Homo sapiens: one gene and its partner. The protein of the gene in region 1 interacts with the protein of each later gene in a biochemical or structural test. Each region holds a gene or a part of one and is shown on either strand. Other genes may lie near its edges.

What was found.
Region 2: of the proteins of UPP1 (region 1) and CTDP1, one has a biochemical effect on the other in vitro, tested with the Homo sapiens proteins (one study listed by BioGRID).

Annotation. Positions count from the first base shown.
Region 1 is NC_000007.14:48,084,291-48,092,555, reverse strand, and holds the start of UPP1 (uridine phosphorylase 1), read right to left. Parts: upstream 3,292-8,265; 5' UTR 3,138-3,291; intron 2,369-3,137; 5' UTR 2,192-2,368; intron 1-2,191. UniProt on the Homo sapiens protein: Catalyzes the reversible phosphorylytic cleavage of uridine to uracil and ribose-1-phosphate which can then be utilized as carbon and energy sources or in the rescue of pyrimidine bases for nucleotide synthesis.
Region 2 is NC_000018.10:79,682,490-79,690,122, reverse strand, and holds part of CTDP1 (RNA polymerase II subunit A C-terminal domain phosphatase), read right to left. Parts: intron 1-7,633. UniProt on the Homo sapiens protein: Processively dephosphorylates 'Ser-2' and 'Ser-5' of the heptad repeats YSPTSPS in the C-terminal domain of the largest RNA polymerase II subunit. This promotes the activity of RNA polymerase II.

The DNA of each region.
Region 1 (8,265 bases):
TGAAGGGAATGAGTTTTAAAAGAGGTATCACACCTTGGCCCCCGGTTCACCAGGGGCCAAATGAAGGACAGTGTAGGGATGAAGCTTCATGAATAGGCAGAGCTACCTCTCCCTACACATGTGGAAGGAGGAGAGAGAAGCCAGGGCAGTGCTTCTTATCAAAAGGCACTACAGGAGGATCCCGGGGCGTAGGGGTCTGGTCATGATTTCAGGCCTTCTTCAGGATCCATTAAGCAGACCTACCGACTGAGGGAAGAAGTAGGGTTTAGGGTCAGGCAGAGTCCTGATCCCCAGGGCCAGTTTCTGTGGGGCAGGAACATTCCCCCGTAAGAGTGGCTCCTCTGAAGAATGTGCCCTCTTACAACCTCCCCTAAAACTCTGCCCCCTCCAGGCTGCTATTTTTGTCTTTAGGGGTAGGGAGCTAATGGGAGGGAGCAGCCCCCCAGTGAACCAGGCAGGGGAAGAGCTAAGAGGTGAGCTCCCTTGGGCCAGCAGCTGAGAACATCCCACTGAATCAGAGACTGCTGAGTGGCCCCCGGAAAGCTCTCCAGAGAGAATCCAACCCCGTTTGTAGAAAAGGAAACCAAGCCAAAGACAGAACTTCCCGTCTGGCCTTGTAGAGTAAGGATGTTTCTCTCTAGGTTTGGTTGCTTTTCTTTACTCTGAACCAGAGAAACCAAGGCCACATCAGCAGAGAAATCAGTTCCCTTGTCCAGTCACTGCTTTCCGCTGGCTCCTTCCTAGTGGGCTCCAGGACCAGCCTCACTCTCTCTTTCCCTTTGCAATCTTAGTACCTGCAGGATCCCCCCTCCTGGGTGTGAGTGTCCCAAGAACTAACTTCTCTCCACTTTTCAGCCCTGCACTCAGGGAGGGTCTATTTAACCACACCCACGTAGGCAGAGAAAGTTGCAGATGTCTGCAGTGCTCCAGTGGAAAAGACCCTGGTGTTGAAGATGTCAGACTGCACTGATTTTAGAAAACCTTTCTCCTAACATTGTACCACAATGTTCTCCAACTTCCGTAAGGAAATGAAATTCAGTTTCTCAACAAGTCTTCTCTCACCTCTCTAGAAAGCCATGCTCTTCGCTCCCCTCCCCACATAACAGGAGAGTTTTGCTGGTTTTACCTGGGCTGCAAATTCTACCTCCCAGGGAAATCCTAAACCTGGCTTAGGATTTGGCTCCCCAAGGAAGAGTCTTTTCGGTGATCACCTGGGGCTCTCTACCTATTACCAGCCAGATCCATCTTACTTAAAAAAAAAAAAAAACTGAAGATGTTTTTGATTTTTTTTTTTAGTTTTAACCCGTTAAACTCAAATCAGATTGGTAAGTTACTTGCATAAATAACTTAGCTTGTAAACATTTAAAATACTTTTTTGAATGAACATATTTCAAAAGCAAATGTGTGTGAGAGAGAGAGGAGAAGGAAGAAGAATGTTTGTTGTTTATCTTTAGGGAAGAGGAAAACCTAGAAGTTTCATTTTCTGTTATATATTTGATTTTTGGTTTTTGGGTTTTTTTGTTTGTTTGTTTTTACAATAAGTTTGCGTTAATTTTAAGATCAGTAAAGTCAACAAAATTCCACTTTGACAAAAAGCCCATGTAAAGAAACACTAATTTATCCTTCTTAAATGAAACATGAATGCCCACCAGTGCTGAAAGTATTGGAACCAAGAATATAATTTGTGCTCGATACACCTGTGCTGAATTAAAACGGTCTGCGGTGATGAGGTTTAATGCAGAGGACTAGAAGGTCAGGGTAGCCTCTGAAAAAAGAAATAATGTAAGAGCAGCTGAGAAATGGGGAAAGCTTGGGCCAAAATGCAGATGGGCAAACAAACTGAAAGGCGGGAGAGACAAAGGCCTGCCCTGGGAATGGCTCAGCAGCGCTTGTAGAAATCCAGAGTAAGACATTCTTTCTATTCAAGGAAGTCACAAAGTTTTTTAAAGACCCGCGGTTACAGCCAATGAATGGAACCAATGGTCTTTTTAACCAGAAGACCCCAGGAAGGCAGAAAATGAGCCAAAGAAAGGCCAGGCAGGGGACAGTGGGGAAAGGAAACAGGGATGGAGAAGCAGAGAGGGAAGTGCAGAGACAGGTCACCCAGGCGCCTGGAAACTGCCTCTATGGCCTTCACGGGAAACGGCCTCTTTCTACTCCGGATCCCAGACTGTGTTTCTTTGAAACTGACCGTCAGAGGAGAGCGGCTGGAGGCGGACAGACGTCTGCAGTGGGAGGCGCTCCAGGCGTTCCAGGCAGTGTCCTGCCGGCGAGTCACCCGCGACCGCGAGTCACCTCACCAAGCCCTGAATTGGGACAGGAGACGAGACGTGTCGACGAGCTGCGGAGTTCCTCGCTTCTCTGGGCCCTGCCAGGTCCAAGAACAGGTTGCCATATAAAAGAATCGTGAAGGGACCCCCTTCCCCATGCAAATTATGTCATATAACGCATATGCCTGTGAAGTTTCTCTGCGGAGCTGCCAGATAACTCGATGACAATATTTTATGCGGTAACATTTTGTTAAATGTTGACTCGATGGCCACTTGACGCCATCTGAACTCTGAAAGCTCGCGTAACAATCATCCTCCAAATGAAATTTTACCCCCTTCTCCCTTTAAAAGGCGGTGGGGACAAAACATCACTTCGTCACTTAAGTCACCATCTCCTTCCTCTTATCTGGGGCTCCCAGCATAGTTCTAGGGGTTCCCGCACTCCCCGCCCGGGTTTGGGCTGCGAGAAGCGCCCGCCTGCGCCCTGCGGGACCTGACCCTGCCGGCTCTGGCTTCACCCTCGCTGCGCCTCGGCCCGGTGGGCTCCCCGCCCAGAGCCCCGCGCGCTCCGTCGCCGGGACGTGGGAGAGGTAGGCACGGGGTGGACCCGAGGAAGCACATCCCGCCCGCGCGCTTCCCCCACGCCCACCTCGCTCCGCACACACCAGCCCCAGAACCTCCCGGCCGCGCGCCCGCCTCCCCGCGCAGCCGCGCCGGGCCGCTCTCTGCTCCTCTGCAGCTCACAGCCAAGGTGCACCAGAGCCTCCGTCACCGCCCCTACAGGTAAATGGGCACGTGGCCAAGGCAGGGGACGGGCTAGACCCCTGGGAAGAGAGAACGGCGGGAGCCGGGCCGCGGGCGACTCACCACTCGGCCTGCGCAGAGAGCCGCTACACCCGCGGCGCCATCCTCGCACTGCGACACCGGCGACAAACGCAATGCTCCAGGGCCGGACGAAGGGACGGCTCTCGGGAGGCTCGCAGACGGCGGGGCGCGGGTCTGTGCGCCGGAGCACTCGAATGAGGGAACCACCTGCGAGGTGAATCTCATATGGAGTCTGCGAGCGGCCCCGCCCTGCCCGGGGGTTACCGCTAGGCTCGGGCCCCGCCTGCCCTGGGCCGGCGAACTCAGCTGACCGCATCCTGGGCCATCCCGCAGACAAGCCCCGCCCGCCCCCACCTTCCTCTGCCCCTCTGGCCCCGCCTCCCCCGCCTTCCTCCTCTCCACCCTCCCGCGAAGGTCCCGGGAGGCTCAGCCCGCAATTGCTTCTCGCCTCTGCAGAGCAGCTGGGCAATTGTAAAGAACCAGCAGCCAGTTCTGTTACTCATTAAACAGCCCCTACTACAGAGGAAATCTTCTTACCCACGTGGTCCTAACCTGGGGCGGAGGAAACCGGGCTAGAAGCGGCTCTAGGACTAACCCAAGGTCACGCCGCCAGGCAGGATCCCCGGTCTGTCTGTCTGGCGGTGGCCCCGCGGCTGGGGCCAGCGGAGAGAAATGACAGCGTGGAACCAGCCCTGGCCCGGTGGTCGGGAATGTGGAGCTGGCACTGTCACTGTGTGTACCCTGGATCTCTCTGGACGGCCTCGGCTTCCCCCCTGGGGAGTTTCTCTGGGACCTTCCTGATCCTGGGAGTTCCCGCTTGCTGGGGCAAAGCCAGGAGCTCGCCCGAGGAGGGGAAGTGACTCATTCACTTCGAGTCGCAGCTAAGTGGCCGAACTGCCTCAAACCGGCGCTGCACTCTGACCCCCAGGGGCCGGACCTGCCTGCCCCCGGCCGGTGCCCACTCTCCGTCTCAGGCGTCTTTCCTGGTCCTCTCCCTGCTTCCCGAACGCGCACTCTGGTGAGAGCACAGAGCCTGGGAAAGAAGACGACCTAGAGGCCCGGGCAGCCCAGCACCTCTGTTACTTGCTTCCTAAAGGGAACTCCAGTTCCTGAGAAAACATGGGGTTGGGCCGGGAGTGGTGGCTCACGCCTGTAATCCCAGCACTTTGGAAGGCCGAGGCGGATGGATCACCTGAGGTCAGGAGTTCGAGACCAGCCTGCCCAACATGGTGAAACCCCGTCACTACTAAAAATACAAAAAATTAGCTGGACGTGGTGTCGCGTGCCTGTAATCCCAGGTACTAGGCAGGCCGAGGCAGGAGAATTGCTTGAACCCAGCGAAGGATGCAGTGAGCCGAGATCGCGCCATTGCACTCCATACTGGGTGACAAGAGTGAAACACACAAACAAATCAAGGAAGGAATTAAGGGTTTTATTGAAAATGAAAGTACGGCCAGGCGCAGTGGCTCACACCTGTAATCCCAGCACTTTGGGAGGCCGAGGCGGGTGGATTACAAAGTCAGGAGTTCAAGACCAGCCTAACCAAGATGGTGAAACCCCGTCTCTACTAAAAGTAAAAAAAAAAAAAAAACAAAAAAAAAAACCTAGCCGGTCACAGTGGCAGGTGCCTGTAATTCCAGCTACTTGGGAGGCTGAGGCAGGAGAACCACTTGAACCTGGGTGGCAGAGGTTGCAGTGAGCTGAGATCATGCCACTGCATTCCAGCCTTGGTGACACAGTGAGACGCCATCTCAAAAAAAAAAGGTAAATGAAAGTACACTCCACAGTGTGGGAGCGGGCCTGAGCGTAGGGGCTCAAAGGCCCCATTCCAGAATTTTGGGGAGTTTCAATGTCCTCCGCTTGGGGCACACACTATGTAAATGAAAGGGATGATGCAAAGTTACAAAGTCATTTACTTGGCCTACGCAGAGGCTATTTCCTGTCATAGCTAAAGTGTGAATCGGCCTTATGTTCCCTGCCTCCAGACCCTATTTTGCTGCCTCAGACTGAAGACTGAAACTGGCCTGGTTAGGAAGTTGCTATTCTCTCTCTCTGAAGGTAGATTAACAACTTAGTTTTAGTTTTGTTACCGGAAAAGGGTCCCAATCCAGACCCCAAGAGAATGTTCTTGGATCTTGTGCAAGAAAGAATTCGGGGCCAGGGTGAGTCCACAGAGTAAAGTGAAAGAAGCAAGCTTATTGAGAAAGTAAAGGAATAAAAGAATGGCAATTCCATGGGCAGGGCAGCCTCTAGGGCTGCTGGTTGGCTATTTTTATGGTTATTTCTTGATCATATACTAAATAAGGGTGGATTATTCATGAGTTTTCTAGGAATTCTTCCTTTTAGAACATATAGGGTAACTTCTAAATGTTGCCATGGTATTTATAAACTGTCATGGTGCTGGTAGGAGTGTCGTTTAGCATGAGAATGCATTGTAATTAGCGAATAATGAGCAATGAGGAAGACCAGAGGTAGTTTTCCTCACCTTGCTGGTTTTTGGCAGGTTTTGGCCAGTTTTGGCTGGCTTCTTTACTGCATCCTGTTTCATCAGCAAGGTCTTTGTAACCTGTATCTTGTGATACCACCTGCCAACCTTCTATTTCATCCTGTGACTAAGGATGCCTAACCTCCTGGGAATGCACTCCAGCAGATCTCAGCCTCATTTTACCCAGCTCCTATTCAAGATGAAGAGTCTCTGAGTCGACTCCTGCTGACATATTTCCTGACTCTACAACCCTTAGGATTAAGGGTTCCCTTGTAAAAGGGAAGGGGGAATAACCAAATAACTCACCCCTTTCTTGGAAAACTCAGGAATAATCCACCCCTTGCTTAGCACATATTCAAGAGTAATCATAAAAAATACCCACCAGCAGCCCTTGGGGATGCTCTGCCTATGGAGTAGCCACTCTTTTATTCCCTTCCTTTCTTAATAAACTTCCTTTTACTGTTCTCTGTGGACTCACCCCAAATTCTTTCTTGTAGGAGATCCAAGAACTTTCTCTAGGGCTCAGGATCAGGACGCCTTTCCAGTAAGTTTGGTGACCTGAAACGTTAGCATGGGTGACTTTATTTTTATTTTTAGTCTTGTCTTTTGGGGCCTAGTGCAAGAGCTTAGTCTAAAACAATGGCCTCCTATAATTTGTGTTTAACATTTGTCAGGTTAAAACCTTGTCAGTGTGACAAACTGGAAACAAAATTGTGTCGGGCCACTACTAAACCACACCCAAAATACCTGTGTCATCAATGTTTGCAAGCAGAGAGCAAATGCAGCCCACCAATGGCCACCTAGAGCAGCAGCTGCTAGAGGCAGGAAAGTCTGGAAGAGACCCAGGGCTTGCAGGCTCAGCCAGGATCCCCCTGCTCCTCAACAAGGTCTTTGGGCTCTTTCAGAGATGCAGTTGGCCCTGAGCTCTGAGAGGTGGGGAGGGAAGGGGCTGAGAGGCTGAAGGCCAGGCCACACCAGATAGTGACACACCACTGCCCTTCAGGTTTCCCAAATCTAAGTAACTTCAAACTCTTTGAAATTCTCCCAAAGCTAATGTGTCTACCTAAAAGAAAGATGAGACAAAATTAACATAGAGAGTTTATTTGTGCCCAGGTTGAGGACTGTAGCCCAGGACACACTTCTAAGTTGCCATGGGGAGTGCTCCAAGAACAAAAAGGAGGCTCAAGTTTTTAAAGAAAAAAGAACAACTCAGGAGATGGGGCGATTGCAGAGTTGTCAGGAATCCTCATTGGTTTACAGAAATAACATTGGTTAGTGATTGCCCACACAGTGTTGAACTATAGGGTGGATGGCATCTTATGGCTAATTGGCCTCAGTTATTCTACAGCCACATAGCAAGTGGCTTCAAGAGGTAACCACTTAGCTGAAGGGGAAGTGAGCCATGACTGCTGTTCTGTTCTAAATGTTCTCTGGGCCTGATAATTTAAAGGCTCACCTTCCTCAGGAAAAGAAATGTGTTTGTTGTTTGTTTGTTTGTTTTCTTTCTCAGATAATATTTTAGAGATAGTAGCTGAGGCTTCTTCTCTGTTTGTCCTCACTTCCCAATTCCTCATGCAATTGCTCTTTTCTTTCCAATCCAGCAGCCATACAGATTTCTAGAACACCCCTCAGAGAGGGCAGAAATTGAGCCGCAGTGTTTTCTAAACAGCTGCCTGGTCCATTCGTGGGTCATGAAACCCATGTGGTGGGTCACAGCTAGCATTTTCATTGTCAGTGAGACAGAATGGAGTGAAAAAGCCTCTGCCTGCTTTCCACACCAGAGCACGTACTTTTATCACACGAACTATGACTCAGACACCACAAACCCAGACCAGGCCTCCAGGTCAGAAGTTGACTCCCCTGAGGCCTGTGGTGAGACTACAGCATGACTCAGACCCCTGAGATTTCAAATTCTTGCCAAAATACAAAAAGTGAGATTCTTCCCGCCAACTCTCACTCATCATATAGAGCTACTCAGTCCCCTGACCCACCCCCAGCTCAGATAGGCTCACAGTGGCAGGCCCACTCCCCTGGCAGCTGAGTCCAGTCTGATGAGCCATCACTTTCCCAGGTTGCTGGTCCTAGTAGTCAACAAAGAGAGTCAAACTCTGTAAAATATTTGAAGAGATTTATCCTAAGCCAAATGTGAATGACCATGGCCCGTGACACAGCAAACGGCCCTCAGGAGGTTCTGAGGACACGTGCCCAAGGCGGTCAGGGTGCAGCTTGGTTTTATATGTTTTAGGAATGCATGAGACAGCAATCAAATACATTTAAGAAATACATTGGTTTGGTCCAGAAAGGCAGGACAACTCAAAGCGGGGTAGGGGGCAGGGTTCAAGGCTATAGGTAAATTTAGACATTTTCTGGTTTACAATTGGTTGAGTTTGTCTAAAGACCTGGATTGATAGAAAGGAAATGTCCAGGTTAAGATAAAAGATTGTGGAGACCCAGGGTATTTGAAGTCTTATAGTGGCTGCCCTTAGAGACAATAGATGACAAATGTTTCCTATTCAGATCTTTAATAAAAGGTGCTAGACACTTAGTTAATCTCTTTTTTTTTTTTTTTTTTTTGAGATGGAGTCTCACACTCTCACCCAGGCTGGAGTGCAGTGGCGCGATCTCGGCTCACTGAAAGCTCCGCCTCCCAGGTTCATGCCATTCTCCTGCCTCAGCCTCCCGAGT
Region 2 (7,633 bases), on another chromosome or scaffold:
GTTCCAACATTCTGAGTGTAGAAATGTATTTAGAGGGAAGAGTGTATTTTTTGCACCTAGACCTTGGGTTTCTAAATGTCATTCTCCACCAAGAAGCAGCAGGATTTGTTGGAGAATGGCTGATTCCAGGACTGTGGCCAGGAGAGCAGCAGCCTAGAATCCGTTATGCAGACAAGGCGGCAATGCCTCAAGACTCAGCCGCCGGGAACCAGCACCACGGGGATCCCGCCGGCCACAGCTGGGATAAGTTTTGTGTCAAGGCAAATAATAACAATAACAGATTATAAGCCATTAAATAAGAAACCATGAGCCTACACTGCTAAATAGACATGTTACTTATTTGTGACGGAGTCTCGCTCCGTCACCTAGTTTGCAGTGCAGTGGTGTGATCTTAGCTCACTGCAATCTCTGCCTCTGGGGTTCAAGTGATTCTCTTGCCTCAGCCTCCCGAGTAGCTGGGACTGCAGGTGCGCACCATCACGCCTATTTTTGTATTTTTAGTAGAGATGGGGTTTCACCATATTGGCCAGGCTGGTCTCGAATTCCTGACCTCAGGTGATCTGTTCACCTTGGCCTCCCAAAGTGCTGGGATTACAGGCGTGAGCCACTACGCCTGGCCTTATTTGTTCTTACGGCAGAAAGTCAACCAAAAAGTGGAGAAGAAATGCTGGAATTGAGAACACCACCACTGGACTATCATCCTAGAAATGAAGCGATTCAAGCAGGAATCACTGACAGATACCCAAAATGTGGGTCAGCTTGGTGCAAATGTATTTATGTGGTAACAAAGTATCTCTTTCAAGATACTGAATTACAACAGGAAAAGTTGTAACTTTTTACAACAGACACCACCTTCACTAAACGCAGGCTCTGGGACAGTCTCACCAGAGTGCACAGCTGCGATCTAACTGAGGGATGTCCTACTAAACCAGGCAATGATACAGAAAGAAAGAAAGACGAAGGAGCTGACTCTTGAGGGTTCAACCAGCGATGCCACGTGGGGTCCAGGGCTTGCTTTTGTTACAAAGGACTTTATTAGGACTATTAGTGCTATGTAAGAGCACGTCTTTGTTTTCAGGAAACTCAAGTATTTAGGGGTGAAGTGACATCACACCTGCAACTAACTCTCCAACTCCAGAAAAATGTGCGTGTGCATGGGGAAAGATAAGCAAACTCAGCAAAGCATTAACATTTGCGGAATCTGGGGTGAAGCTGGTGTGAGAATTCTGTGCACTGTTCTTGCAACTTTAAGGTCAAAAATTATGTCCCAAAAGAGCCAGAGTGGCTGGGTGTGGTGGCTCACGCCTGTAATCCCAGCACTTAGCGAGGCTGAGGCAGGATCACCTGAGGTCAGAAGTTCCAGACCAGCCTGGCCAACGTGGTGAAATCGTCTCTACTAAAAATACAAAAATTAGCCGGGTGTGGCTGGGAGTGATGGCTCACGCCTGTAATCCCAGCACTTTGGGAAGCCAAGGCAGGTGGGTCACCTGAGGTCAGGAGTTCGAGATGAGCCTGGCCAACATGGTAAAACCCTGCCTCTACTAAAAATACAAAAATTAGTTGGGCGCGGTGGCTCACGCCTGTAATCCCAACACTTCAGGAGGCCGAGGCAGGTGGATCACCTGAGGTCAGGAGTTCGAGACCAGCCTGGCCAACATGGTGAAACCCTGTCTCTACTAAAAATACAATAATTAGCTGGGCATGGTGGTGGGCACCTGTAATCCCAGCTACTCAGGAGGCCGAGGCAGGAGAATCGCTTGAACCCAGGAGGTGGAGGTTGCAGTGAACTGAGATTGCACCGCTGCACTCCAGCCTGGGTGACAACAGTGAAACTTCATCTCAAAACAAAAAACAAACAGCTTCAAAGGAACAAGTGTTGTTGTTTTGTCTCCTGTGCAGCCACAGGGGTGGGAGCCCCAGGCTGGAGTCCAGTGCAGTGCAGTCGTCAGCTGTGGCTGACGCTCTGCACCTGGTTCAGTCGCCCAGAGCCCAGACGCAGCCATCCTGGAGAACACGCACAGGTGGGGCTCTGGCAGCGGTTACTGAAACTGTGGCTGTAAAGCACAACGTCTGAGGAATGTAAAGAAGGAACAAGGGCAGCCCAGCCTGATTCCCAACACTGCACACATCCACAGAGCCGTGGCTGGAAAGCTTCAACACTGCCACTGTGGTCTAGAGCGAGTCATCCAACAAAACCAGTTCCCAGCACGTCTCAAAACCACGTGGCACCACGTGCACCACACCATTCAGACCCTACTGCCCTCTCTGCTGGGTAAACAGACCTGCAAGGAAAGTCCTTGCCTCAGAACCTCCACAGACCCCAGGGAGCCATGGTGTCAAATGCTTCCAGCCTGAAAACACTTTAACCCCCTGGTGGTATGCTCAGGACAACCAACCAACTGCTCCGGTGCATGCCCACCAGTGAACTGGAGAAGTCAACTGCTGCGGTGCAGGCCCACCAGTGAACTGGCGAAGCCAACTGCTGCGGTGCAGGCCCACCAGTGAACTGGAGAAGCCAACTGCTGCGGTGCAGGCCCACCAGTGAACTGGAGAAGCCAACTGCTGCGGTGCAGGCCCACCAGTGAACTGGAGAAGCCAACTGCTCCGGTGCAGGCCCACCAGTGAACTGACGAAGCCAACTGCTGCGGTGCAGGCCCACCAGTGAACTGGCGAAGCCAACTGCTGCGGTGCAGGCCCACCAGTGAACTGGAGAAGCCAACTGCTCCGGTGCAGGCCCACCAGTGAACTGACGAAGCCAACTGCTGCGGTGCAGGCCCACCAGTGAACTGGCGAAGCCAACTGCTGCGGTGCAGGCCCACCAGTGAACTGGAGAAGCCAACTGCTCTGGTGCAGGCCCACCAGTGAACTGACGAAGCCAACTGCTGCGGTGCATGCCCACCAGTGAACTGGAGAAGCCAACTGCTGCGGTGCAGGCCCACCAGTGAACTGACGAAGCCAACTGCTGCGGTGCAGGCCCACCAGTGAACTGGAGAAGCCAACTGCTGCGGTGCAGGCCCACCAGTGAACTGACGAAGCCAACTGCTGCGGTGCAGGCCCACCAGTGAACTGGAGAAGTCAACTGCTGCGGTGCAGGCCCACCAGTGAACTGGAGAAGCCAACTGCTGCGGTGCAGGCCCACCAGTGAACTGGAGAAGCCAACTGCTGCGGTGCAGGCCCACCAGTGAACTGGAGAAGCCAACTGCTGCGGTGCAGGCCCACCAGTGAACTGGCGAAGCCAACTGCTGCGGTGCAGGCCCACCAGTGAACTGACGAAGCCAACTGCTGCGGTGCAGGCCCACCAGTGAACTGGAGAAGCCAACTGCTGTGGTGCAGGCCCACCAGTGAACTGGAGAAGCCAACATGATGCTGGGTATCAACTCGCTAACTGCATCATTCCCGCCAGTCTATAGTCAGCACAAAAAATGCATCAAAATCGTACGACACCAGCATTCTTCACCATTTAAAGCACCGTAGGGAAATTACTGTCTTTTAAACGCTACTTCAAAAATGTTACAAATATTAAATGAGTTAAGTTTTAGCTCAAGTTCCTCTTAACATTGTAAGGAATTTTGCACATATGATGCTAGATGTATATTTAAAAACCTACCAAGACCATCTCTTCATAACCTTTAAAATGTGCATTTATCCTTTAAGAAATATCACCTGAATCTCTTCAAACTCATCAGTTCCATTCTCTCTACATTCTCTTTCTCCTGAAAATATAAAAAGCACTTTTTTCTGAGACAACTTACATCGCTTGTTTTCCGTTTTGTATTTGTGCACTTTTAAAACACACATAAAACTGAGAATTCATCCATTCCTCTGTACCCAGATACTAGATGATTTCACATAACCCACTTTAAAACTAACTTTAAAGAAACCATGAAAATGGAGACAAATCTGATAATGCACACAAAATTTCTGAAACCTACAAACCATTTCCAGGCAGACGTGCTTCAAAGTCCTTTATCTAAAAGATTAGATCGGAGATACCTAAAAACCCATGACAAAGGTAAATCACAGACGAACAAAACCAAGCAAGTAACAAGGCCCAGTGGTTTTCTGTTAGGTGAAAAGTGGGAAAAACAAAGCAAAACGTTTGAAGTGCAACTTACCCACGTTTAATGGGCTGACAAAGTGACAGCCCCCCAAATTTTAGGCACAAATATCTTTTTTAAAGTATCATCCTTTAAATAGTGCAGGCGTCAACAGGGAAGAATAAAAGTATTCTAAATAATTATTAGAATTGTTAATAATAAAACTATTCTAAAAGAATTACCAATTCATCAAGATTCTTGGTACCAGGATGAAAACGAAATGTCCTTATTTCCAGGACCGGACCCTTAGGTGACGACGTTCGTGCACTGACTGAAGCACATTTAGAATTTCAGAGGCTTCTACTCCCTCATCACAGAACAATAAATTCGGGGACTAATCTTAGGTTGCAGCCTATTCTAACTGTATTACTATTTCTCAGAGATTCTCATTCCAAAATCTACAAAGCAATAAAGACAGCAATACCGTTGCTGTTGGAATGATCTTCATTTTATTCAGCAATGTTTTTCTGCTTCTCTGTGGCACTCTCACACCCTGCGCTGGTGAATGCAGATGCCCTTCCTGTGGACACGCTAAAGGCACAGGTACAGTCTGTCAGACGTCATCAACCCTCGCACACGGCCTCCGCCTGTTAGTTCTCACCAGTCACTGCAGGCTCCCAGATCATTTTAGGTACCTTCCCCTTTCTGTGGCGATTTAAATACCTCCCTGTGAGTGACTGGGAAAAAGCCAAAGCAAAGAAATCTGCAGGAAAAAAAAGACTTAGTTTCTGAAAGATGGTGACCTGTCAGAATATTTTCTATTAAAATAATTGTACTCCACATAAATATTATAAAAGCAGACAAACACTATTGTTCTAGCTACTCCCCCCACACTAGGAATCTCCAGGGCTGAAACCTGGTCTACAGAGAGCAGCACGCAGAGAACCAAGGACAGAGGCTCTCTCAAGGGCCTGAGCACACCACGAGGCATCTGCACCGTCCTCCTCACCAGGACCTCACACCCCGTAAGGAGCACCGCAGAGAAACTGGGAGTAGAGACCACGAGGTCCCTGCACCGTCCTCCTCACCAGGACCTCACACCCCGTAAGGAGCACCGCAGAGAAACCGGGAGTAGAGACCACGAGGTCCCTGCACCGTCCTCCTCACCAGGACCTCACACCCTGTAAGGGGCAGGGCAGGTCCAAACTTCTTGGAACCTCAGTTTCTTTCCAATGGAGTGAGGAGGTTCTTACTTCTGCCAGATAGGATGAAGCCCGACAAAAACATACAATCTTATTAAAGATCAAAACGACAATCTAGTGACTATTGTAACTTCACCCAAATGCAGTGTTTTTAAGTTCCCAGAATGGTTCTTTGTCTAAAAATAACCACTGATGTGGTTAGGATAAATGTTGCTGGTAACAACAATGCAGGCAACGAGGGCACGGACCCACCTTGCCTGGTGACAACAACGCAGGCAACGAGGGCACGGACCCACCTTGCCTGGTGACAACAATGAAGGTAACAAGAGCAGGGACCCACCTTGCCTGGTGACAACAATGCAGGCAACGAGGGCACGGACCCACCCTGCCTGGCTGGTGCTGGTGCTTTTCACAGGTTCACTCACACCTGCTATTTATAGAGGGAGGTTTCACAGGGCCACAGGTTCCATTACCTCTCTCCGCAGTGCTCCGCCTCAGTAACCGACACTAAGCTACACAAGGCTCACTCACACATACCCACGTGGGATTCTTCTTTCTTTGTTAAAATTCCATGCTATAAAGAACTGTTTAGACTGACGTTCTAATCTACGCTCTGGAGCAGCGCGTAGTCTGCTCCTCGGCACTGTGAGCATGCTGGCTGCACATGTACAAGCAACATCCACACCTCTCAGTTTCTCAAACACAGTCTCAGCTAAACAAGTTACTGTCAAGCAGCCGGCGGCCAGTGGGGTCAAGAGCCACCTTCACTAAGGTGATGGCACACAAGCGACGCTTGAGCTTAGCACACTCAGGCTGCTGCCGCTGTCTGCTCTCTGCAAGCTCCAGTTCAGCAGATTTAATGCTATGTTTTCAAAGATACTTCCCGTTATTCCTGAAAAATAAGTATTTTTATAAGCCCTGTGAAAGGATCAAGATAAAGGAACAACAGTGGGTAGGCACCCCCCGGTCCCAAAACCGTCCTGGGCCAGAAGCTAATTCATAACACCTGCAGGGTGAACACAGCGACCAAGCCTCAAGAGACAGGCTGTCCTCCCCGTAAATCCCACACCTCGTCAGCAATGTCCTCAACAACACCCTCGGGAAATCTGATTTCCCAAGACTTTCTCCAAAGGCCCCTCACCAAGGAGCCACCAGGGCACGCAGGCAACCAGTAAGCCCTTGAGGGACCAAAACTGTGTGGCCACATCAAGGGCTTCGCCCAAGCCAGAATTCCAACGTCAGATCGCCTGCGCATTCCTCAGGCAGCCGCCCTGAAACCCCGTTTCTGACACCTGAGTTTCTGATCCATCAGCTGGGCAGGACCTGCTCTCTCTCACCAAGAGCCACGGGGTTCCATTGGTGCTGGGAGGTCCCTGTTAAAAGGGACCTCCTTTCAGCACAAGCCCAGGAGCAGATTCTGCACCTCCCCTGCCCTCACACGCAGATGAGCTGAAGCCAGGGTTGGAGCCTCCACAAAAGCAGTTGTGGATTCTGCCCATGCTTGTCTATACAAGTGCGTGTTATTTGCATAATCTGAAAGGGGTACTCTAAGGATCAATACACGATAATCAGTCTATAAACATTTAAAGCAAACTTCAACCAAATGCTTGCTCTCCCAGATAAAGATCTCAGGAATCTGTAACTTCAAGAGAACTTTTAGAGGTGGTCAAGATAAGTCAATTATAAAACAGCCCACGTGCAATTCTGGGAACTTGCTTAGTAAAAATCAAACACCTGGGCTGGTGAGCAGAGTCAATGACGGTTGAAGGCAGTTCCTCTTCCCTGATGTCTTCACCTTCCAGCCTCCAAGTGGTGGGACACCGCAGAAGAGAACCGCGGAGCTGTTGCTGGAAATGACCACACCAGCAATCAGAGAAAAAAAGAAAAACAGAGGAAAAACCTTTTAAGTGAAAGTGACTCAGGCTCTCTAGAGGAAGGCAGATGCTCTTCACCAACCGACGTCCCAGAGGCGTCGCAGGGATGAGAACTAAACTCACACCTATCACCTTCCAACATCAGGATGGAATTATGCCCAATATTCTCTACTTCATCACAAAGCGGCACAATCTATTATGGAAAGACTTCCATATTTAATCAGTCCCTCATTCTCACGGGGGACGGGCTGCAGGACTCCTTCAGATACCAAATTCCACATCCACAGATACTCAGGTCCCGCAGTCAACCTGGAGAACCCACTGATCCAGAAAGTCAGCGCTCTGTATAAACAGGCTGGGCTCCACACCCAGCAAACAGTGTTGGGCGTGGAACCCATGGATGCGAACAGCAGACGATTTACTGAAAAACATCTACATAAAGGTGGCCCTCGCAGACCAAAGCAAGTTGTTCGAGGGTTAGCTGTAAATTGTGTATAAAGAGCTGCTGAGCTGGAACTCA